Regions from separate parts of the Homo sapiens genome. Here all the other regions are linked to region 2. Evidence: fine-mapped expression QTL. A gene starts in region 2. Each other region holds a variant in brackets. All regions are shown on one strand. Distances are from middle to middle.

Region 1 (5,109 bases), 49 kb after region 2:
GTAGCAACATTCAAAATTTTAAGGTCTGTGAAATGAAGATTGGGTTCATTCTCATTTTGATAAGGCATGTATTTAAATCATCAATTAATAGCAGTGTTTTCATTAACTAAACTATGAAGCACATGATGGATAAAGTAATATAATCAGTTTCCCTGGAGTGTAAGTCACTACCAGACTATACGTGATACACTTTTTAGGAAATTTCACTTAATCTTTCAGGTACTATGATAATATGCTCTCATTTAGTTTTACACAATAGTGACCTATCTCAGGAGCTAGAGAAAGTCCAAGTTAGGGCAACTGCCAAATTGCTTTCTACAGTCAGGCAGTTGCTTGATTCTGGAGAGAATCTGAGCTATTCCTGCAGTTGTGGGTAAATTGAAGGGCCACATTAAAACTGTAAAAGGGAAGAGTGGGTAGACACTCTGTTCAGGTATGTCTGTTCTCAGTAAGTTGCCTAAAGGCTGGGTAATCTCTAGTAGGTTGAAGACCTGAGAGAAATCACACTGTGTTCTCTCTCTCTCAACATTTGGTTTATAGGGAATAACGTGGAAAGTCTGAGAGTAGAAGAATCACTTAGAGGTCAGCTTGATGGTACATGTATGAAATAGAGAAAAGACAAGGCCACCTCTGGCTGTTTTGCTTTGGAACAGAGGATAGGCCTGGCTGCAGAAGAAGAATGGGATGTTTATGTGTTTGCATATATACATATGTGTGTGTTTGGATATATATATATATATATATATTTTCTAGGAACAGCTCTGTCTATTGACTTGGAGAGAGAAAGTGCCCATTTTACAGCTCACTTTAACAACCAGAGCAGAGCTTAAAGATAATTATTTGAAGAGAGATTATTGGCTCAATCTGAGTCTCTGAGTTTCTGAGTGCCAAACCTGGTGTCCCCTAGAAATTGCAGCCATGCTTCAAATGACTGGCTGTGATCAGAAACCAGCCTAGTGGCCCTCACAAGGGTGTGAGACTTCTGTTCACTGCCAAAACTCTGCAAGAAGAAAACTGTGTGAGTTTAGCAAGGTTATCAGTTCGAACAGCAGAAATGGGCATTTTCTTATTTGAGAAACCAATAACTAGCAGCTATCTGTTAGGAAAGAAAGGATAGATTTGTTGCTAAAGAAAGCAAAGTTGAATTCTGGAAAGCTAATCAAGTGTACTGAGACAAAGTAGCCCAAGTCCCCAGGAATAACCAGTGACAAATTAGTTTTTCATTCTGCTGCTTTCATGCCTGTTTTAAGAATATTCTTGAAAAACTGCTCACCACAGAGAAGCTGGCCCTTCATCTTCATCCAGAGGCAGTCAGCCTGCTGCAGTGGGAGGGCACAGGACCAGAAATCAGGAGCCCTGCTTTTTAGTTACACCTCTGCCACCGACTTATTTTGTGACGTTGCATAAATTCCTTTACCTCAAACACCACATCTAACTACCTCACAAATACGCTGCAAGAACTCAGTGAAATAATGAATGTAAAAGCACTTTGCAAAGCATGGAGCACTGTAGAAGTATAAGGGATTATTATCCAAGTAGGTTTCATGCCAACCTTTCTGGTATCACCCTCAAGACTTCTTCAGCTTTGGCACAAAGTTCTCAATTCTCTGCTTGCTCCCTCCAAGTCCTACCTGGCTTGGGAACAGAAGTTTTCACCCTCCCTTCTTTTGTCAGCTTTCTCCGTAATGGGGCCTGCTGAATGTAATTATTGTTTATCAGTTCTAATTTCCCCTAGAGAAACCATCTTCCTCAGGAAAAGACTCCACCTTTCTATAAACACCAAGTCTTCAGGCACAACATACTCATGTGGCAGGTGTGATGCATGGGGGAAAGGAAAAGGAAGCAATATACAGCTCCAGGAAAGAAAGCTGTGATTTCAGTGAGACTTTCTTGATGAGCTTTCAGTGCCCAGAATACACACACACACACACACTCACTCACCCACATTCTCTTGATGAAAGACTCAGGCCAGTCTATATACCACAGCAATCAGAAGTCTTACCTGATACCTGCTATTTGCTCCTGAGCCTATGGTGGCCACTCTCTCTTCTCTCTACACCTGTGAAGGTTTTAATTCAGTGCTGTCCATTTATACCCTTCTAAGAGTGGCAGGACTCCAGGAATCTCTGTCCTCACCAATCATAAGTCAGAACTCCCAAATTCCTGGCCATTTCTGATTTAACCCTGTCTAACATGTCAGCTTTCTAGCTGAGGGAAGGACTTAGCCTCAAAAATCAAGAAGCTGCTGGCTTGTGCCT[A/G]CTGTCCAGACCCTGGACCTGCCTTCCCCAATTCCAATAGACAACTCTGTGTGTCAGTAAGGCAGAAAGAATACTCTGGAGAGTAAGTCTTACAGGCAACATGAGGAGAATGGAGAAGAAGAAATCAAGTCCTACAGAATGAGAAGCTCAAGTGTATAATGGATCCAAAGGGAAAAACTAAGGTCAAAGACCCAGGTGTCACAGTAAAACAGAGGGAACAGGATATGGACAGAGTTAAAATAAGCAGTGAGTTTAATTCAGGCTTGGCACAAGAGTACATACCGAAGCAGGGTCCTAACATGCAAGCAGAATTTGTTAACTTGACATCCTAACTGGCGTGGACAAAAGTGGCGTCTATAGATAAGACATGGGGAAAACTGAGGGTAAAAACTGAGCCTAAGAATAGTACCCTAAGTTCTGATACACCCAGATGAGCCTCCACAGTAGGAATATTTCATATGTCTGAAATTCTTAGACCAGGAGTTCCAATTTTCATCACCTCACCTGGTATGGAAAAACAAGAACCTTACAGAAGAGAGTAAGACTATACAGGGATCAAAACTGAAGTTAAAGCAATGTACAGGACTCTGGGATACTTTTCTGGATCTAACTAAATCTTTGGGCAAATGCTCTATCAGAATAGAATATAGGGTTTGCCTTTCTGATTTGAAGATTGGGATATCTCATTTCATATTCTGTCTTGGAGACATGGCTGTTAGGCAAAATAGTTCTCTCTTTGTCCCTTCATGCTCCTACTGCTTCTTGTTCATTTACCTTATTACTTACTCCAAGTTCAGGCTTATTTGTCCCAGAATATAACTCAGGACTTGGATTAGTATACCACAAAAGAGGTCTGCTGTTGTTAGTCTACTCCCCACCACATGTAATTGGCCAAAGGGGACAAGAATTGCAGGATAAAAAGGCATTAACTCTTGGCAGAACTTCCCATACTAAGCCAGTCCCTACTAGAGGTGTCTTGGGACTACATCCCATGTAGAACATAATTGTCATTCATAAAAACCACAATAAGCATCCCCGGTTGTCCATAGAAACAGGAACAGAAAGACATTTCACAGAGTAGGACCCAGGTGGTAGCAAGATACTGTGCCAAAGGCAAAAGGTATGAAATGGTGACCAGATGTTGCAATAGATTGTGTAAAGAGGATCACAGGAAAACAATTAAATCTTTTCTCAAGTAGCTCCATTTAAAATAATACCCACACACCACACAACTTAAATGCCCATCAACCAATGAGTGGATAAAGAAAATGTGGTATATATACAACATGGAATACTACTCAGCCATAGAATGCAATGAAATAATGGCATTTGCAGCAACTTGCATAGACTTGGAGACCATTATTCTAAGTGAAGTAACTCAGGAATGGAAAACCAAATATCATATGTTCTCAATTACGAGTGGGAGCCAAACTATGAGGATGCAAAGGCATAAGAATATATAATGGAATCTGGGGACTCAGGGGAAGGATGGGAGGGGGATAAGGGATAAAAGACTACATATTGGGTACAGTATACACTGCTCAGGTGATAGGTGCACCAAAATCTCAGAAGTCATCACTGAAGAACTTATCCATATAACCAAAAGCCCCCTGTTCCCCAAAAGCTGTTGAAATAAATTTAATAATAATAATACCCACATGAAGTTTTCCTTGTAGTAACTGGCACAGTGCCTACCTAGCACAGAGCCTGGCACATGGTAGGCAGTCAATAAATGGTGGTTGATTGAATGAATCACAAATTACACACTAAAACAGCCAGGCAAAACTTTTCAAGCTCTAATTATAGCTGTTAAAAGGATGTAAGTTGTAGTAACATTCCCTGTATATTGAATTAACTACTTCAGTAAATCAATTTTCTTAGCTCAAGTTTTATTTTTCCTGTCAGGATTTTAAGGCCTCAGCTTTGTACAACTATTTCCTTAGGTGTAATGGGGGAAATTATCTAAGGCCCACTAAGATTAGAGGGAGGTAGAGGAAATTGGAAGGCAACCAATGAAAGGTAGGAAGGAATCCAAGCGTGTTAGATTGGGAGAGAACTATCCCTCACCTCATTAATGTGACTGTAAAATTTGATCTTGCAAAAAGCAATAGCTAAAAAAATTAAAAATGAACATACTCATGTATTTATCCAGTCAACAATTATTTCTCTAAACCCCCTTGATTTGATTCAGCTTAAATTATAGAAAAATATAATATGGGCAGAAAAATTTTCAGTTTCCAGTCTACAGCATTCTAATTCTTTAATATGCCCTGCTAGATGAAGTAAAAGATTGCTGGGCAAAGGTACAGGCCTAAGTTAAGGCATAGCCTGGTTCTGGAGGCAAGCAGGGTCCAGAGATTTAGAGGCCTGAAGGTTGTCAAGAGGATCACAGATGTACAAGTCTAATTAGTTTTAATATGAGGGCAGCAGCTCTTTGTTTCTGCTTGATTTTAACCTACTGTCTGGGTGTGGTTGTACAGGTGTGGATCACAGTTAAAAGAAATTAAAAAGCTTATATGCACATTCTGCCATTTTCAGAGAGCCAGGGAGAGAGATGGTAGACTCACTCCTCTCTATTTTCATCTGGTCCCTGCTCTAAGTGTAAAATAATAGTCATTTAAAAGTCTCCTGCATGTTAGTATCAACTTTTGGGGTCTATCTTTTTGCTGAACCCATTCTTTTTATTTTCCCAAGTTTGCTGCTTTTTCCATGCCCCAGTTCCTCTTCCACTGGCTGTTTTACTGTGTTTCTCCCCTCTCTGCCCACCCTACCCCCACCCAATTTATTGCCCTTTTTTTGGCTCCCTGAAATGTGTCGGACTTGCAGAGGTATGGACAATTTCTTTAAAGCC
Region 2 (5,109 bases):
CACTCTTAGTCCTAAAATTATCACAATTGAGGGTTGTAGAGCTTGTACTCAAAATTAGCATTTTTAAAGCCAACATCAACAAATTTGTAATTAAAATATAAATTATCAAAAGTAAACTTGTTTACTTCTTATCAAAAGAATATAATTAAAAACAAACAAACTCTTCTAAGTACTAAGTGGGTCTGTTCAAATGTAGCATTTAGTTTTCACCTATAATATTTTTTATTAAGTAACTTGCAGGGTTAAATCTAACCAATCATAACTGTTTTAGAGAAAGAAGGCAGAAATACTATCTTCACCACATTACCTTCACCTTTCGTTTTACTTCATAGGGATTAACAATTTCCACTCGAGTATTTTTCCAAATTGCTGAGGTAGAGAGACCCATTGTTAAATCTCTACAATACCTAAAACATACTGCAAACAATAAAAAAACCATATGTGGTAATTACAATTTAAAACATACTACATTCAAAGTTAACAGAAATAATAAAATAGTAGGCATGCAAAAGGATTCCCACCTCCCATCCCATCCTTATATCAAAGCATTTAACTGTTTTTATAAACTAAATGCCTATAAGTTCAGTAAGTTACATACATGAATATAACAAAGTTCCTCTCCCCTTCAATAGACTTGCTAGACAATTGTGCAAACAGTTAGCATTCCCACATTTCAACAAGAAAGGAACGCCTATTCATTTATCTTGTTCTTACGAGATGTAAAATATTAAAACGTATATTGGAATTGCTTGGTTTACTAGTAAAATATTTCCTGTAAGTATAGAGGGTTCAGATTTAGGGTACTTCTGAATTTATTTCCACTATATTCCTTACCACATGTTATTCTAGCATGTAATCTTAACCCCAGTTTAGTTGATAAATAACAAAAAAATTTAAAGAAAAAAAAACAAGGTAATCATACAACAGCCAAATGTGTATTTTTTTTAAATGGAGCAAGTACTTGAAGACAAAGTTGCACCCTTTAGATGTCGAGGATTGAGAGTCTTACCTCAAAATATCCTACTGTGAATCAATTTCACCAACTATTTTTAGGAGGTGTATGGTGGCCTCTACTGGAGTAGTACGCAGTCGATTAAGTTATCAGAAAAGGATCCAACTTTCTATCACAAAAGACACGTTTTTGTGTTTAAATGCTGCCCGCTTTTATAACAACAATAAAAACAAAGCACCTGTGTACATCTAAGTTCTCACTGCACAGCTGACCAAAGCCCAACCAGAACAGTTTCAGAGTAAGAAGAGTGGGAAGAGAGGTGAACCAAAGTATTTTGGTTGAACCTCGCTAAGTCTTACCAAAGATTCGACTTATTTATAAGGGCTGGGGTTTACTTTGCGTCTTCTTTTACAGACCAACGGGGCAGGGACAGCGGTTGTGGAAAGGAGAAGGGGTGGAGCAAGAGTGCAGTAGAATCAAGGGGACCTGAGAGGAAGCAGTAGAACATCACCTGAAACCTGGCGACTGGAGATAGGTCGCCAGTGTATCTCGACATGGGTCATTACAAGGAACCATAACAAGCCACAGAGAAACGAGAAAGCTGTTACCAGGGAACACTCGTGCCTATGTGCAAATGTCCCCAGAGTTACTTAGTCACCTTGGTGTGTTTGTTGCACTGGGTTCGTAAAGCGTCCGGGGTTCAACAGCGAGCTGGAGTCCGCAGCTGTCCCCCAAAATGTTCCCAGCCAGCAAACTAGGCGCGGCGGAGAAAAAGGGACGCGCGGAGTCAGGCACAGCACCCCGCCAGTCCCCCAGTTCCCCTTCGGGTCGGAAAGTGAAGAAACTTAGTCACAACAACTCTGGCGTGGCCCGCCAGGCAGGCGCTCCGCCCAAGGCCGAGCCCGGGCCCAGGCTGCACTCACTCCGCAAGCCCGAGCCCGCCGTCTCATCCCCGCCCGCTCCCCAGCGAAAGGGCAGTGGAGGCAGCATCAAGGGGGCTTGCCCGGGAGCCCGCTTCCCGGCCCTACGCCTCTCCTCTCTCCGTCCCCAGCCAAGGTCTTGAGGGGAAGGAGGCGGGGGTTGGCTCCAGCCCGTCTTGGCCACCACACTAACCTCGCCGCTGCTCGCGCCGCCGCCGCTGAACACTTCCATTTCTCGGTCCCAGGGCTCGTCCTGAGGAGCGAATGGTAGCATCTCCCCTTCAGGAGCACTCAAACAGGAGCTGCCGCCTACCGCTGGCGCGGCCGCGCATCCTGTCTATTGAACTGGCCCGCCGCCGCCGCCGCCGCCGCCGCCGCCGCCGCGACCCCCAGCCCCGCCTTCAGCGAGCGCTGCCCTCGCCGCCGGGTCTCTCAGAGGCTGGGAGCTGGGGGTCGCCGCCGCCGCCGCCCGGTGATTCCCATAGAGAAGACAACTCTGTGCTGCCTCTCCAAGAGCTGCCGCTCGGCTCGCGCTCACCACTGCCACCACAACGACAGCCGCTCGGTGGTGACTCCCCCAACACCCCACTTCCTCGGGTCCCCTCCCCGCTCCCTGCTCTGTCAATATGGCGGCAGCGGCGGCGTTACCTGTGCGGCGCCTGGACCCCCCCACGGCGGCGGCACAGCGGCGTCACCCAAACGTCAATGGAGATTCCCCAGCTTGGGGTGAAGGGGGCGGGATAGAGGGGCGGGGTGGATGCGGGGGACCGCGTGGTGGGTGGTGGGATAGAGGGGAGGGGGGCGTGCTGGGCTGGGGAGGCGACTGAACAGTAGTAAAAGCCCCTGCTAGCGCCTCGGTAAACCTGCCCACTCCACGGAGCATGCGCAGCGCTCTTCACACATGCTCAGCAGGCCCTCTCAAGTCCACGGAGCAGCATTGCTGGCGGGCGGCAGGATTCTCAAAAAGGATGCTGGAACTGGGGGACCCTCCAGAGCACTTGAGGAATCAGGGTAAGGGTAGGACTCCAAGAGTATCTCTTTGCAGGGCTCACGAAGAGCAGGTGTCTTATATGCCAAACCACGCCCATTTCGATACTTAGTGACAAATACTAGGGCAGGGATTTTAGTACATCATACATTATCCTCCTAGAAGGTAAAGGCAGGATAACCCCCATTTAAAAAAATAAATATACCTGTCCTCTCTAGCCCCCACCTTACTTGTCCCTCTCAGGATGCTCCTGCTGGTTGCCTTCACACTATTGATAACACACAATGTTTCTCTTCACACATGCACACACACAGGCAAACATATGCCACTTAATGAACTCCACTTGTGGCAACAAAGGCATGATTCCGAAGCTAGCCCATCCTCCAGCCCCCTCTGAGAATGTTGGGTCTGTAGTGACAATAATCATAGTTTTTAGTACCTTCTTCAAAGCGAGCTTTACTACTTCGCTACTCTAAGCCACACATTGTACTGGGAGCTGGCGATATAACAGAGATAAAGTATAATCTTATACGGGGGATAATCAAGATGCTTCTCATCAAAACACTTCAGAGCTGAAAGTTTAAAAGTTATTCCACATTTGACACTTCAAAGACTTAAAAGAGCAACTGTAACAGCGGCTAAACCAACTCAGGACCTTGGAGAGGTTTCTAACGTTCATAAAAGGCACACCACCCCCTTTACCCTTCTACACCTAGGGCTGTTGACCTATGCCCTCCATTTATTTCATCATCTGGTCTCAAGAGCTAATGAAGCAAAGCTGGCCACAGAGATTGCACTGAATTACAAACAAGGATAACTGATAATGTCCTCTCACTTACTCTGCTGAAAATCTCGAGGAGAAAGTGAGCTTAACGAACAGGGTTCTCTAAAAGTCAAAGCTTCGAAAGTAGTGGGTGCATGGGGCTATAAATCGTGAAAATGTGTGAGAGTGTGTGTGTCTGTGTGTGCACGCACACACCCATAAACTCATATTTGGCTGAACTGACAGTATTAACTAGGGCCAACTTTTTTTCTTTTTCTTTTTTTTTTTTTTTTTTTTGAGACAGAGTCTCATTCTGTTGCCCAGGCTGGAGTGCAGTGGCGCGATCTTGGCTCACTGCAACCTCTGCCTCCCGGGTTCAAGCGATTCTTCTGACTCAGCCTCCCGAGTAGCTGGGATTACAAGCGTGCGCCACCACGCCCGGCTAATTTTTGTATTTTTAGTAGAGACAGGGTTTCACCATGTTGGTCAGGCCGGTCTCGAACTCCTGACCTTGTGATCCGCCCACCTCAGCCTCTCAAAGTGCTGGGATTACAGGCCTGAGCTGCTGTGCCTGGTACTGCCAACCTTTTGAGCGCTGGGTCTCATCCATCCCTTCTTGCCTACTCAAAGGCTTTGTTCTGCAACCCGCCCCCCCACTAACATCATCTATTTTTTTCTCTCTACTGGATCTCTCCCGTCAGCAAAAACATGTTATTGACAGCTTGCTTGAACACTTGCTGGCATTTGATGTAAGTTCATGACTTACTCTTTCTTTAAACATTTTCTTTACTTGGCCTCTGGAACGAAATAATGTTTGTTTTTCTCCTACATCATTGTTTCTCTTATACATCTTTCTGTCTCCTTTACTGGATCATCCCTCCTCTTCCCAATTCTGCCTATTGGAACTTCAAGGTTCAGTCCCACCCTCTTTCTTTTTCAGCGTTCTAGGTATTCCCATATCCCATCCATACCTGATATGGTTAGGCTTTGTGTCCCCACCCAAATCTCATCTTGAATTGAATCCCCATAATCCCCATAATCCCCATGTGTCAAGGGAGGGACCAGGTGGAGGTAAGTGAATCATGGGGGTGGTTTCCACCATGCTGTTCTCATGATAGTGCCTGAGTTCTAACAAGATCTGATGGTTTTATAAGGCGCTCTTCCTTCCTTTGTTGGGCACTTCTTCCAGACGCCATGTGAAGAAGGTACCTTGCTTCCCCTTTGCCTTGATTGTAAGTTTCCTGGGGCTCCCCAGCCATGATGAACTGTGAGTCAATTAAACCTCTATTTTTTAAATAAATTACCCAGTCTTGAGCAGTTCTTTATAGCAGTATGAAAACAGACTAATACAATAAATTGGTACCAAGGTAGTGGGGTGCTGCTATAAACATACTGGAAAATATGGAAGCGACTTTCAAACTATGTAACAGGCAGAGGTTGGAACAGCTTGGAGGGCTCAAAAGAAGACAGGAAGATGTGGGAATGT
Region 3 (5,109 bases), 310 kb before region 2:
CTCTGTCAACTTAAAGCTACTACTTCTCTCATCCAGGAGTCTTTCCCTTCAATCCCTTCCCCAATAGTCTGATTGTAAGGGAAAGCATAAATAGACATATTACATTAGACAGAGGAGTTCTGGATTAGTTCTCACACTGCTGATAAAGATATACCTGAAACTGAGAAATTTACAGAAGAAAGAGGTTTAATTAGACTCACAGTTCCACATTTCTGGGGAGGTCTCTCAATCATGGCAAAAGGCAAGGAGGAGCAAGTCACATCTTACTTGGATGGCAGCAGGCAAAGAGAGCTTGTGCAGAGAAACTCCCGTTTTTAAAACCATCAGATCTTTTGAGACTCATTCACTATCACAAGAACTGTGTAGGAAAGACCTGCCCCCATAATTCAATCACTTTCCACTGGGCTCCTCCCACGACATGTGTGAATTGTGGAGGTTACAATTCAAGATGAGATTTGGGTGGGGACACAGCCAAACCATATCAAGTCCCTATTCTACATGTTTCCTCCCTTTCTGTCTCTATGATTTTTGGTTGGGTGTAACTCATTTACATGATTTCTGGGCATCAATCTTTGTTTCCTATGCTTGCATGGTATTCATTGTTTATTCTAAGCATCGTAGGACTGCTGCCCTCTGACCTGTTAAACTCACGGCTTCTGTAGATACAGCTAGTTCTTGACCCTAAACTTCTCATTTTTATTAATTTCCTCCTCCCTTTCTTCTCCTCATTTCTCCCCCTTGTCACCTTCTTGTTCTTCTAACTCAAGAAATTTATATTTCCTCTTTTAGGCTCAGAGAGATCTATTTTATCTTATATTCCAAATATTTTCTATCTTTGGTTTATAATAAAACTTTACATATGTACATCAATTTACTTCTCATATATTAATATTTTTTGGAAGATAAAAACATCTTTTATCACTCTCAGAAAGCCTGGGTTTCAAGTCTAGCTTTCTCCCAGCAGACCCCAAAACTCTGCTTTGAGACTCAAAGTTGATTAATGACCCCCTTGCTCTAGGTGATATCTTCTTTCTCCACCAGATTGAGTTAATGGATGGCTAACCACTAGTGTGACAATACTTATAAGAAATAAAAGTACACTGGGGAATAATTTTTAAGATAAGTAAGAAGAAAGACTCTCAAATAGCTAGACTCTTTTCCACAGGCAGTTTTTAGGAAAAGTAAATAAAATATAAGAAAAAAATTGAATACAAGGATTAATTTTAATTAAAAAATTATCTTTCAGGGTATGTTCTAGGCTTGTACAATTCATGCCAAGTCTCTTTAATAAACTTCCATATGCTTTGCCACCATTCAGTTAGGCTTTTCTGTCTCTACTACTCCACTGAAACTTTTCCTTTAAAGGTTACCAAATACCTTCTTGTGGCCATATCTATAGGCTTTTCCTCCCTCCTCATCTTATTTCATAATTCAACAGCATTTAAACTAACCTTTCTGTCTGGAAATACTTCCATTACTTCACTTCTATGACTGTGCTCTCCTGTTTTTATTTCTACATACTGGTAGATTTTAACCACCTTTATTGTATCCTTCTCTGCCTCATTATTAAAAATTGGAATGATCCTGTCTTTGTCCTGGACACTCTTTATTTACAGTCCTCCCTTTGTGAGTATATAGCGTTAAATGGCTTTAAATATTATCTATGTATTGATGATTCCAAAATTAATATCTCCAGTTATGACCTTCTAATTGAGCTCCAAAATCTCTCCACTTGAAATCTCCACTATAGTATCTACTGGGCATCTCATACTTAAAATGTTTAAATAATATTTTTAACCCCACACTAAATTCTATTCCTCCCTTAGCTGTCTTCATCTTATCAGATGGCACCACCATCCAGCCAGTTGATTTTTTTAAGCCTGGACATAATCTCCTTCTCACTTCTTTTTCTCACCCTACACAGGTAATCCATCAGCAAGACTTGTTTACTCTACCTCCAAAATATGTCCTGACTGAATCCACT[T/G]TCCTTATCTCCATTACTACCACCTTCGTTGCTCCAGTCATCACCATCATTAGCATCTAGCTATCCATTAACTCATTATGTTGCCCAGGCTGGTCTTGAACTCCTGGGCTCAAGCAATCTTCCAGCCTTGGCTTCCCAAAGTGCTGGGATTGTAGGTGTAAGCCACCATGTCTGGCAGAATAAAATTTCTTACCCTAGCTTCCAGTGTCTACAATCTTTAGCCCCTACCCATTTTTCACCATAATCATGTAGCACTTCTTCTCTTTTCTCTTGTCATCTAGCCAAACTGGCATTCTTTTTGTTTCTCATAAACACCAAGATTGTTTTCTTGCAAAGCCTTCTCATGTGCTGTTTCCTCTGATTGGAATATTCCTCCCACAGATCTTTGCATGTCTATTCCTTTTCATTATTTAGTTTTTCAGCTTAAGTGTTCTCTTTAGAGAAGCCTTCCCTGACTACCTTACTTTATGTTACCCTCTCATCCACCACTATGCAGTCACCCTCCGAACACTGCATCATACATTATTTGGCTTCACTGAATTTATATTTATATAAAATTATATTTTATTCATTTGTTTGTTAATTATATTCAACATCAGAATTCAGGTTCTATGCAGGCAGTGAATCTAGCCTGTTTTTTCATATATATATATATATATACAAATATATATAAATATATATATATATATAAATATAAATATATATATTTGTATATAAATATAAATATATATATTTGTATATAAATATAAATATATATATTTGTATATAAATATATATATAAAAATATATATATTTGTATATAAATATAAATATATATATTTGTATATAAATATATATATAAAAATATATATATTTGTATATAAATATAAATATATATATTTGTATATAAATATATATATAAAAATATATATTTGTATATAAATATATATATAAAATATATATATTTGTATATAAATATATATATAAATATATATAAATATATATATAAATATATATAAATATATATAAATATATAAATATATATATAAATATATAAATATATATAAATATATAAATATATATATATAAATATATAAATATATATAAATATATAAATATATATATAAATATATAAATATATATAAATATATATAAATATATATATAAATATATATAAATATATATAAATATATATAAATATATATAAATATATATATAAATATATATAAATATATATAAATATATATAAATATATATATAAATATATATAAATATATATATATTTTCATACATGTCCACAGATTCAAAAACAGCAGCTATATATATGAAAATATATATTTTAATATATGTCCACAGATTCAAAAACAGCACCTATGTTATATTTAGTTGGTTGAGAATTTGGTCCCTCTAAAGAGCTACATATCACAGTAGGAGACATTCGGATATCCCTTTTTCCAAGCATTTTTCCTCTAGATATGTCATTAAAACAAGTATTTTTTTAAGTGAGGGTAGTCACAAAAATGCACTTTATATTCTAATTGGATGTCTGGAAGAGAATACCTATGTATCCTGCTCAATTGTGTATGGGGAACTTATGAACAAACTTTGTTATTGAATCTTATGGAGTTTTCTCCTTCCTTTTTTTTTTTTTTAATATGGGCTTGAAGAATGATGGCTTTTCTCCTTTTCTCCTCCACTGGAGTCCTAGTGATTCTCACAGTAGCACATAAGCACGTAAGAACCACATAAGCAGTGCTGTGTTTCAGGGTCAGCACTGTTTACACTCCTGGATTAAGATTATTTACATTTGATATTATGTTTATAAATCTTAGCAATATTCTCAAACGTAAGTGAAGAATTCTTTATATTCCAGATGCTAAGGTAGAAAAGTAGGGTGTTATGTTTAGGGTGTTTTGTTTTCCATTCTGTATGTGTATATATAATCTTTATTAACAAAAATACAAATACAACAACAGAAACAATATAAAATACGTAAAGAAAAGCTAATCATTTAGATCCTCATGTCCACTTTCTGATGCCAAATCCCCCTATTTTCTCATCTTCTAGAGGTAAACAATGTTAGCAGCCTGGGGTCCATTTTTCTCTCTTACACCATTTCCTTGTACAAGCAAATGTAAGGAGGGAGAGAGAGAGGGAGAGAGAATTACATAATTTGTTTTGACCAAAATACAATCATGCACATGCAGTAAAGTACAACTTATTTTCTCACTTGACAATATCATGGTCATCCATATAAGTCGTTAGACATACATCTATTGTTATTGTTCTTATTTCCAACTTGCTTGTGAAAACACACACAGAATTTTGTGTCAATACCATACATTGTGATTTGTTTTCCTTCCATCTTTTATTTTTGCTTATCTCTCTACTTCTCATTCCCACTTTCACCCATCGCTTTTTTTCTCCTTTCTAGGTAACACTTATCAACAACTTACTATGTTTCATTCCATACGTCTTTCTAAGGTTCACTTTACCATATCAAACATTCAAACACACACAGACACATACACACACACACATGCACACAGTGGTAGCATCTGGCAGCAGAAGAGAAAGTGTATGGCAGCTGGGAGCAGGAGGAAGTGAGGTTTTCTTATTGTTTTATTTTAAAATAAAGAAATAATACATCTTTGCATCTTGGTCAGCAATAGTTGTTACAGCTCCTCCTAACTTTTGCCATTCTAATGGATGCATAATGATATCTCATTGGTACTTTAATTTGCATTCTCCTAAATGCTAGTTTGTTTAAATATCTTTTGAATGTTTGTCGTGCCATACGTTTGATCTTTTGAGAATTATTTCTTTGTATTCTTTGTCCATTTTTCACATGGGTTATTTGTATGTTTCTTGCATTTATTAAAGTATCTTTGCATATTATAGGTATTACTCCTTCATCTGTCTTCCTTGTTGTATTTTCCCTAGCTTTCATGTCTATTAATTATTTTGCAGTGTATTTTGCTGTGCACAAATACTAAATTTTTACATAATCAAATACGTCTATAATTTATTTGGTTGTTTCTTGGCTGTCCGTATTAGTGAAAATTATCTTCTCCACAGAGTAGTTTTTAACAGGGACTAAAACAAAAACTAGTCCTTAGTAAATAATAAACTGTCATCGATGTCCA
Region 4 (5,109 bases), 550 kb after region 2:
GGGAGATTGTGGGAAACATAAACAAACTTTACCTACACCCTTCTGTAATAAATGTCACAAGGTAATATGTGGCAAAATTAACCAGCAAACAATCCCAGGGTCTTTCTTCCCTCATGTAAACCCCTCATTTTGTATGCTCAGAGCTGCCTCCTCTGTGATGGAGCAGCTGTCAGGTTAATAAACTTCCTCGCCTGACCTTGGGTCCCTCTCTCATCCTTTCTCTCGGCTGACCTTATATTCTGGTGCCGAAACCCGGGAAGGCAATAGATTCTGGCTGGGACTCACTCTCTCTCTCTCTCTCTCTCTCTCTCTCTCTTCCCCTCCCTCCCCTATCACCCCTCTCCCGGCCAATCTCCTCTTTCCCAAACCTGCCAAAGACCCAGAGAATCTCCTAGACTCTCCCATTGCTGGCAACCTCATCCACCATCAAAGCCTCCACCAGGGTGAGTGAAAAGAGACTGTTGCCATTCCCCAGAACCCTTGACCATCCATCTCTCCACTTCCAAAAGACCCAGCGCTGGGCCAAGGGCTTCCTCCCATCTCTGAGCCTCCAGTTCCTCCATTTCAGGGATGCCTGACTCGGTGGTTACCTCCTTTATTCTGGAGAAGTTCCATGGGAAAGGGGACGCCCTCTCCCACCGTCCTTGTCATCAACAGTCTCTTCTTCCCCTACCCTCCCCTCCTCCATTCACTATAGGAGCCTCTCAATCTACCCCTTCCAAGACCACCCCCCTGGGTGTCTCCTCCGCAATCTCCATGCTCTCAGCCTCCATTCAGAAATCCATTCTAAGAGGTTTATCTTTTTCAATGTACTTAAAGACAAACAACTTTTGCCATCGAAATGGGAAATGGTCTGAGATTCCTTATGTTCAGGCTTTCTTCACTCTCTGTAATCACTCTTCCCTCTGTCAGTCCTGTTCTACTTTCCAAATCCTCTTCACCCACTCCAAACCTGACTTGCCTCCTGCCCCCCTCCCCACAGCCCCAGCTGAAGACTGCTCTTCCTTCGACCCTGCCAATTTTCCCCTTCCCTGAAAGCATCATGATCCTCCACCAGAGCATCATGATCCTCCACCGTATGTCCCCACTCCAGCTCTACCTCTCTCCCCTCCTCTCTCCAACCACCCTGCTTCTGACTCTGAGTCCTCTCTCTCTCCACCCCTCACCTCCTCTCTGGCCCAAGATGCTCAGCAACCAGCTCCCTTGCTTCCTCTCCAGGAAGTAGCAGGAGTCGAGGGGATCATCCATGTCCATGTCCCTTTTTCCCTCTCCGATCTCTCCCAAATTGAGAAATGTCTCAGATCCTTCTCCTCTGATCCCGATACTTATATCAAAGAATTTAAATATCTTACCCAATCTAATGAACTCACTTGGCATGATCTCTACATTATCCTCTTTTATACCCTCCTTCCAGAAGAGAAGAAAAGAGTGTGGCTCACAGCACAGGCACAAGCTGATGATCTTCATTGGCAAGATCCTACTAAGCCTGTAGAAGCCGCTGCTGTTACCTGGGAAAAGCCTTCCTGGGAGTACCAACCCACAAACTCCAGCCAAGCATCCCATAACCATATAATTACTTGCGTCACTGCAGGCATTAACAAAGCTGCCCATAAGGCTGTAAATTTTGAAAATCTTAAAGAAATTTCCCAAAACCAGATGAAAATCTTGCTCAATTCCTTTTCTGCCTTACAGAGGCTTTCCAAAAATATACCCACATTGACCCTGCCTCCCAGGAAGGAACTATTGTTCTTAATACCCATTTTATCTCCCAATCCACACCCAATATTCGGCACAAGCTTCAGAAGCTTGACGACAGCCCTCAAACCCCACAACGAGACCTTCTTAATTTAGCCTTCAAAGTCTTTTAACAATCGTGATGAGGAAAGAAAGGCAAAAACAGGCAGAGTTTCAAACGCTTGCCTCTGCCATCAGGGGCCCTGCAGGCAACAGGGCGCAGCTCCACATGGAAGCCTCCTAGCAATCCACCTCCACCTGGTGCCTGTTTCAAGTGCGGCAGTGAAGGCCACTAGTCCAGACAATGCCCTAACCCAGATAAGCCCACCAGGCTGTGCCCCTCTGCGGAGGACGCCACTGGAAGTCAGACTGTGAGTGGCCCCCACAAGGACTGCCCCCATCCCTTCCTGAACTGGCCAAAACCTCCTACTCAGATCTCATCGGCCTTGCCACTGAAGACTGATGGTGCCCTGGAACGGACGCCCTGGCAACTACCATCTCTTCATCCGAGCCAAGGGTAACCCTGATGGTGGCAGGTAGGCCAGTATGTTTTTTTTTTTCAATACTGGGACAACCTACTCTGCTTTACCTAATTTTTCAGGACCCACCAAGTCCTCCCAGGTCTCTGTTGTAGGAATTGATGGGCAAGTCTCCAAACCCCGAGCCACCCCTCCACTCTTCTGTTCCCTGCACACCTTTTCCTTCACTCACTCTTTCTTAGTCCTGCCCTCATGTCCAACTCTACTCCTAGGCAGAAACATCCTTTCAAAAATCCACACTACTCTCCACCTCCATGGTGACCTACTTAGGAATTCAACTTTCTCCTGGGGCCCGGGCTATGACCCAAACCCAAGTGGCACTAATAGATAAATAATCTGCCCTGCCCTCCTCCAACAGCGAAGTCCTTTCCTTCCTAGGACTAGCAGGCTTCTTTAGAATATAGATTCCCAACTTTGCCCTCCTAGCTCACCCCCTCTATGAAGTGGCAAAAGGCCCTCTCAGTTAATCCCCAAACTCCTCACATAACATACTCCCCAGCTCCGTGAACTCCAAACTGCTCTTGTCACTACACCAGCTCTGTCCTTACCTAGTATCTCCCAACCTTTCATTCTCTATACTGCCGAAAGCCAAGGAATAGCCCTCAGTATCTTAGGGCAGCAGAAAGAAGACCCTCCTTCCTTTGCCCCTGTAGCCTACCTCTCTAAACAATTAGACAACACAGTCAGAGGATGGCCAACCTGTCTTAGAGTGCTAG[C/T]AACAGCAGCCACTTTAGGTCCAAAAATAACCAGGAAACTAACATTCAGTCAAAATAACACTGTCTACAGTCCTCATAATCTACAGGATTTCCTCTTCTCCTGAGCATTAGGCTCCCTTCCTCCTTACCGGATTCGATCATTCCATGCCCTCTTTATCGAAAATCCCGAATTCAGTATTGCCAAAAGTGCTCCCCTCAAGCCAGCATCATTACTCCCCGTATCCCCTTCCCCTCCTACTCATTCTTGCACTGACATCCTAGATCACCTGCAGCCACACTTTCCAAGCATTTCCTCTGAGCCTCTCACCGACCCCAATGACCAACTATTTATAGATGCCTCCTCTTCTGGGCCCACTGGCTCTCCCAAAATTGCTAGGTAAGAGGTTGTTTCCCTTGACCAAGTAATTGAAGCTAAGCCCCTACCTCCAGGAACCTCCTCTCAAAAAGCAGAACTCATAGCTCTCACCAGAGTCCTAACCCTTTCTAAAGGCAAATGGATCAACATTTACACAGACTCCAAATATGCATATCACATTCTTCATTCTCACACCATCATCTGGCAAGAGAGGGGATTCCTCACTGCCAAAGGGACGCCTATCACTAACGGCCCCTTATTTACCAACTCCTTCAGGCTGCACATCTCCCAACTGAGGCAGGAGTTATACACTGTCGGGGACATCAAACAGAGACAGAAAGGCCTTTGAGGGAACAGATTAATCTCAAGAGGGAACAGAAAGGCCAACAAGGCAGCAGAGAACAGAATCTCAGGAGGGAACAGAAAGGGAATCTGAAGAGGGAACAGAAAGGCCAATGAGGCAGCAAAAAAGGCCTCCCTTTCTTCCACTCCTGCCTCCCTCCTCCTCATTACCCCTGCAATCCAAGCTCAATACTCTCCCACTGAAAAGGCTTTATTACTACAACAAGGAACCTTCCTCCAGGGGGACAGGATAGTTAAGGACCAGAAGCTAGTCCTTCCCCAGCTCCAAACCGACAAAATCCTGACATCTCTCCACCAATCCTTCCGTGCTGGTGCATGTCCCCTGTATCTCCTCTTCTGCCCATATTTCTTCTCCCCTCACCTATTCACCTCACTAAAAAACATAACTTCAAACTGTCATATATACTCTGTCACCTCCTTTCAAAGAGCCCTCCACTCCCCATCTATTCCTACACACCAGCTAAGAGGAGCACTCCCAGGAGAAGAGTGGCAAATATACTTCAGCCACATGCCTCCTGTCAAAAAAACAAAATTCCTTCTCACTCTTACAAACACCTTCTCTGGGTGGGTGGAGGTATTTCCTACCTCTTCAAAAAAAGCCACAGTAGTATCCCAGATCCTTATCACAAAAATCATCCCTAGGTTTAGTCTCCCTCACTCCATTCGATCAGACAATGGCCCTGGGTTTATCTCCCAAATCACCCAACAGGTCTCCCAGTCCCTCGGCGTCCAGTGACACCTTCATATCCCATATCGACCCCAATCATCAGGAAAAGTCAATAGGGCAAATGGAATCCTTAAAACTCAGTTGACCAAACTCACTCTAGAACTCCAGAGGCCCTGGACTTTCCTCCTACCCGTAGCTCTAGCCTGCATCAGAGCCAGCCCAAAGGCACTCTCTTTCCTCAGCCCATTTAAATTAATGTATAGACGCCCTTTCCTCTTACAAAATAGGCCTCCTTCTAATTCTCAATCAGGGGAATACCTCCAAACACTTTCCCCCATCTGCCATCTCCTCCACAAACAGTCAGACCAGGCCCTCCAAAAACCACATAAAGGCCCTTGACACCTCCCACCTCCTTAACAAAAATTCAGAGTACTGTAATGGCTGACACCTCCCCTATTTATCCCTCTTCTCTTGGCTCCCCTCTCCATACACCATCCCTATACACACCACCCATGACGGTCTCATCCCAACATCCAACAACACTCCCACATGAATCTTAGTAAACAGAAAACGCTTCCTCTTACACTGGGAAAAAAAAAAAAAAAAAAAAAAAGCCTCCCAGCTTAAACCAAACACCCTTTAACAACCACTTATAACAGCAGCCCTAGCTGGGACCCTAAGAGTATGGATGCTTGAGAATAACAAAATAGTACATCTTTTTAGCATACACAACCA
Region 5 (5,109 bases), 56 kb after region 2:
TATGACTTAATTTCAATCTCTATCAAATTCACCTGAAACATAAAATATAGTCTTTATATTTGCATATTTAATTCTGTCATTAGTTCAAGGAATTTTCCTGCTGTTATACCTTCTAATAATTCCTTTATTCTATTTGTAGAATAGAGGTTATTCTCTATTAGCATTCTCCTTACTAGATCATCTTTGTTATCCGTCTTTATTATTTTCTCCTGAATCTAATTTGTCTTTATCTTCTGAATTTGCTGTGATTATCTCAGAATTTTTCTCTTTTATTAATTTGATTTTAAGCAATTCTGCTCAATTCCTTGCTATTTCTAGTTTATTCATTTTCAAATAGTGAGGTTTTTGTTGTTGTTGTTGTTCTCAATTTGTTTCCTTAGCTTTGTGCAAGTCACATACCTGTTTTCAGTTCATTTAGGTATATATCCAGGGGTAGAATTGCTGGGTCATATGTCACCAAAAATACCAAATACCACACCTGGAAAAGCTATCCTTCAAAAATGAAGCAGAAATTAAGACAATCCCAGATAAATGAAAGCAAGGGAATTTGTCTCTGGATATCTCCTACAAGAAATGCTAAGGAGAGTCCTTTAGGCTGAAATGAAAGGAAGCTATATGGTAACTCAAAGTCATACAAAAAATTAAAGATCTCTGGTAAAGGTAACTATGCAAGTAAATATAAAAGATAGTATTATTATATTTTGTTTTGTAACTCCTCTTTTTGTTTCTTATATAACATGAGAGACAAATGCATAAAGCAATAATCATAAATCTATGTTAATGGATACGTAAAAGATAAATATTAAATTTGTGTCAATAAAAACATAATGCACATGAGTAATATAAATCTCATAAAAATCAGGAAGTGGTGGAAGAGAGTATAGGAAGTATAAGAGTGCTATTTTCCTCATCTTTCAAGGCAGATAATCAATACATATTATGTAAAATTAAAGCATAAAGCTCAATAATTTCTGAATCCAAAATCTCATTATTTTTAATTCTCTTATATTGGCTGTTCATCAAACATTGTATGCATAGTCCCACCTCCCCAACTGATGGTGTGATTATGAGAGTTACCAATCCACAATCTGAAAAGCAAAGGAAGAATGTGTACTGGAAGACAGAGGTAAGATATGTGGAATTCTGAGTCAAGGTCAGCTATTGATTAGTCAAATTCCATTACTATATAATATTCCTAAAACTTGATACTTCACCAGGCCCTGGAAAGTAGGGACAAAAATAAAAAATCTGACTCATTAGATGTTTAAGTGCACTACAGCAATAAATAAAAGGGTTTTTAGTGGCACTACCTCCTATCAGGGAGGTGATTTGAGAAGATGTTATTGCATGAAAGGGAATACTGCTTTAAAAGAATTGCTGGCAGTAGAATGATTAAGAGGTAGTTACAAGGGAAACTCTAGGGCATGGGTGAAAACCAAAAGGTTGGGGGGTGCGGTAAACGTGAGCAAAGGCTCTAAGTACACAGACAAGGCATATCTTCACAGGGTAAAGTTCTTCCCATAGGGAGCTTCAAGAGCAGTGAACTATGCAACAATTCTGCCACTTTGCTAGCTATATGATTCTAGGCATGTCACTTCCTCTCTAGAGGTCTCAGTTTTCCTCACTCTAAGGATATTCTTCATACTTTTTATATTCCTCAGTCTGATACCCATGGGCCTACTTTTTCAGAGTCAGCTGAATCTAGACAAAGTTTTCCAAGTAGTGACTACTAGACATCCATTTCCAGGCAAAGTCCCTGGCAAGAGTATGATATTGGCAAAGCTTATCTCTGAAACCCTTCTACCTTTCTAGTTTAGTGGGCACTCCTCATCTTGCTGCTTGTTTCAATTCCTCCCTCAATCCTTCAACAGCTAATCTAAAGTCCTTCAAAGGTTAGTTGATAAAAGTTTAAAGGCTGATAGTGGGACAGTGGTCAGAGATTAGGGAAGTATTTATGGAGAAGACAGGATACCATTTGAAGTGGAAACATGGAAACATATGGGGCAAAGGGAATGGTTTAATTCGTTGAACACACAGGGTAGATTTCTGGGAGAACTGGCCTAGAAAGTTTAGAATGGGATGAAATTCTGGGGGCCTTATTCCCCAGGATTGAAGCATTTGGAATTAACTTGATTAGCAATGAAGAGCCTTTGAAGATTTTGTCCAGAGAGTGACATTAACAGTATAAAGCACAGTTCTCTGAAAAGCTCCAGTTAAAATGAAAACTACTTTCCCTGGGATAGTGATGCATT[T/C]GTTTGTTAGCATTTATTAACACCTTAGAGAGATACATTATCAAAAAACAAAGTGCCCTAAGGGACTAGGTCACAGGCACAGGACAGAGCAATATTGATTAGGTAGGAAAAGGGAGCAAACAAAGTTTAGAGAACAAGTTGCACCAGAATGTATATTACAAGGGGCTCCTAAACAGATGGAAAGCAGCAGGAGAGCAGCACTCAGTCTGAGGTGAGGACACATAGGTCAATGATAGTTGGGGTGTGAAGCTAGGTCTTGGGCCCAAGTATGGCAATCTGAAGATAGCTTCTGTCTCAGAACCTGTCTTTTCTGTTAGCTGGAAATCACACCATTAGAGATTAATTCTTTAGGATCTGGAAAGTATTTTGTTTTGTTTTGTTTTGTTTTTAAGATATCTTGAGACCTCTAAGAAACTCAAATATCCCTGGGAAACAAACATTTAATGCTATTGGACTCTAGTCTCATTTCTTCTCATAGCCTCCCTTTTTATATCTGTAAAATAAAGGCAAAACCTGTTTTGTTAAACTTAAAAGCTCGGGATAAGAGAGATCATCAGAGGGTCCGATGAGATAATAGGTGTTACAGCACATTATAGATGATAAAATGCTAGACCAGTGTAAATGAGGGTGACTATTTTATAGGTTTTCTTCCCTCCCCCACAGTACCTAGCAGAGAGTTGAGCATTCTGTTGTATACACTTACCAAAATTAGATCAAAATAAATAGGTGTAATTTAATATCTTTTCACAGAGATTATGTTGAGCTGAACATCTGTAACAACAAAACAGACAAAAAACCTTTCTGACGGAAAGGTTGATCATGATCAATCTAACTTAGATTCCAGAAGATATATGGAAGCTTGAGAGAGAGCAATTATTTACATTTACTTGTGTAGTCTCTGGAAGATTTATGGTTAGGCTGTTGAAAATCCAAATTTTGATTCAGATTATCACTATTTCCAATTAAATGCAGTTACAGAGTACTGCTCTATGCTGTTTTACTTTAAAGATGCGAGCCACTACAATTCGTTTATTGAAACAATTTCTTGCATTTATTTTTTTAAAAAAACTACTTTTAATTTTTATAGGTCAGTGTATAAGTTTATGGAGTACATAGGATATTTTGATACAGGCATGCAATGTGAAATAATCACATCATGGAAAAAGGGGTGTCCATCCCCTCAAGCATTTATCCTTTGTGTTAGAAAGAATCCAATTATACACTTTTAGTTAAAGTGTACAATTAAATTATTTTGACTATAGTCACCCTGTTTTTCTATCAAATACAAAGTCTTATTCATTTCTTCTAATTGTTATTTTTGTGTTGATTAACCATCTTCACTTCCACCCCCCCGCCCCCCCACCGCCAGAGTCCCCGCTGTCTATCCCAGCCTCTGGTAATCATCCTTCTACTCTCTATCTCCATGAGTTCAATTGTTTTGATTTTTAGATCCCACAAATAAGTGAGAACATATGATGTTTGTCTTTCTGTGCCTGGGTTATTTCATGTAACACAAGTACCTCCAGTCCCATCCATGTTGCTGCAAAAGATGGCATCTCATTCTTTTTTATGGCTGAATAGTACTCCATTGTGTATAAGTGCCACATTTTCTTTATCCATTCATCTGTTGATGGACACTTAGGTTGCTTCCAAATCTTGGCTACTGTGAATAGTGCTGAAATAAACATAGGAGGGCAGATATTTCTTCAATATACTGATTTCCTTTATTTTGCATATATACCCAGCAATGGGATTGCTGAACATATGATAGCTGAATTTTTAGTTTTTTTGAGGAACTCCCAAACTGTTTTTCACAGTGGTTTTATTACTTAACATTCCCATCAACAGTGTACAAGGGCTCCCTTTTTTTCACATCATCTCCTGTATTTATTACTGCTTATCTTTTGTATATAAGCCATTTTAATTGAGGTGAGAAGGTATCTCATTGTAGTTTCATTTGCATTTCTCTGATGATCAGTGATGTTGAGCACCTTTTCATGTGCCTGTTTGTCATTTGTATGCCTTCTTTTAAGAAATGTCTATTCAAATCTTTTGTCAGTTTTTAATCAGATCAATATTTTCTTTTCTTTTCTTTCCTTTTTTTTTTTTGAGACAGAGTCTCACTCTGTTGCCCAGGCTGGAGTGCAGCGGCATGATCTCGGCTCACTGCAACCTCTGCCTCTCAGGTTCAAGCAATTCTTATGCCTCAGCACCTTGAGTAACTGGGATTACAGGTGTGTATGTGCTGCCATGCCTGGCTAATTTTTTGTGTTTTCAGTAGAGATGTGGTTTCGCTATGTTGGCCAGGCTGGTCTCCAACTCCTGGCTTCAAATGATCTGCCTGCCTCAGCCTTCGAAAGAGCTGGGATTACAGGCATGAGCCACCATAACTGGGTAATAATTTTTTTCCACAGAGTCGTTTGAGCTCCTTTTATATTCTGGTTATTAATTCCTTGTCAGCTGGGTAGTTTGCAAATATATTCTCCCACTCTGTGGATTGTCGCTTCACTTTGTTGATTTCTTCAATAACTCTTGGTATAATCTGTCTGATGCTAAGTTTTCTCATTGGTTAAGATAAGGAGGATGGACTAGATAATATCAAAATTTATTCAGAGGCTAACATTCTAGTATTTTTGCTTCGCAATATGACCTGAGGCCTTGAGTTCCTGGTAAAGTTGAGTTCCGAGTGCACTGGCTGTTAGCAAGCACTCTGATTGGAAATGTGAGACAAGGGAAAAATTTAGATAATGACTTCTTAGCTGTTCTATCTGCTGATAAATGTTCAATAAATCATCCATTGGTTTTGAAGTAGTAAAAGAATTTCATTCTCACAGGATCTAAATGCTTATGTATAGGG

Alleles and levels. Positions count from the first base shown, and alleles are read on the strand shown. Sizes are in standard deviations (SD) of each study's normalised expression. Not every link is listed here.
With allele T in place of C in region 4, the expression in visceral fat of the gene that starts at base 2,446 in region 2 is lower (moderate effect, 0.64 SD a copy in GTEx).
With allele T in place of C in region 5, the expression in sigmoid colon of the gene that starts at base 2,446 in region 2 is higher (small effect, 0.33 SD a copy in GTEx).

What was found. PIP is the estimated chance that this variant, and not a neighbour inherited with it, causes the effect.
Region 1: its variant is the best candidate, but not a certain one, in a credible set for the expression of RPS6KA6 in blood mononuclear cells (TOPMed, PIP 0.51).
Region 3: its variant is the best candidate, but not a certain one, in a credible set for the expression of RPS6KA6 in fibroblasts (GTEx, PIP 0.82).
Region 4: its variant is the best candidate, but not a certain one, in a credible set for the expression of RPS6KA6 in visceral fat (GTEx, PIP 0.57).
Region 5: its variant is the best candidate, but not a certain one, in a credible set for the expression of RPS6KA6 in sigmoid colon (GTEx, PIP 0.52).

The regions. Positions count from the first base shown.
Region 1 is chrX:84,234,611-84,239,719 of GRCh38, forward strand. No RefSeq gene overlaps it. Among named protein-coding and RNA genes, the nearest start is that of MIR548I4, 11 kb to the left of the region's middle. The variant A/G (reference allele first, on the strand shown) is at 2,259.
Region 2 is chrX:84,185,754-84,190,862 of GRCh38, forward strand. It overlaps RPS6KA6 (ribosomal protein S6 kinase A6), which reads right to left and starts at 2,446. Exons shown (of 22, transcript NM_014496.5): 1 at 2,066-2,446. The coding sequence starts at 2,146.
Region 3 is chrX:83,875,253-83,880,361 of GRCh38, forward strand. All of the region lies in intron 4 of CYLC1 (cylicin 1), which reads left to right. Among named protein-coding and RNA genes, the nearest start is that of CYLC1, 17 kb to the left of the region's middle. The variant T/G (reference allele first, on the strand shown) is at 1,985.
Region 4 is chrX:84,738,713-84,743,821 of GRCh38, forward strand. It overlaps the pseudogene TEX16P. Among named protein-coding and RNA genes, the nearest start is that of HDX, 240 kb to the left of the region's middle. The variant C/T (reference allele first, on the strand shown) is at 2,990.
Region 5 is chrX:84,241,929-84,247,037 of GRCh38, forward strand. No RefSeq gene overlaps it. Among named protein-coding and RNA genes, the nearest start is that of MIR548I4, 19 kb to the left of the region's middle. The variant T/C (reference allele first, on the strand shown) is at 2,253.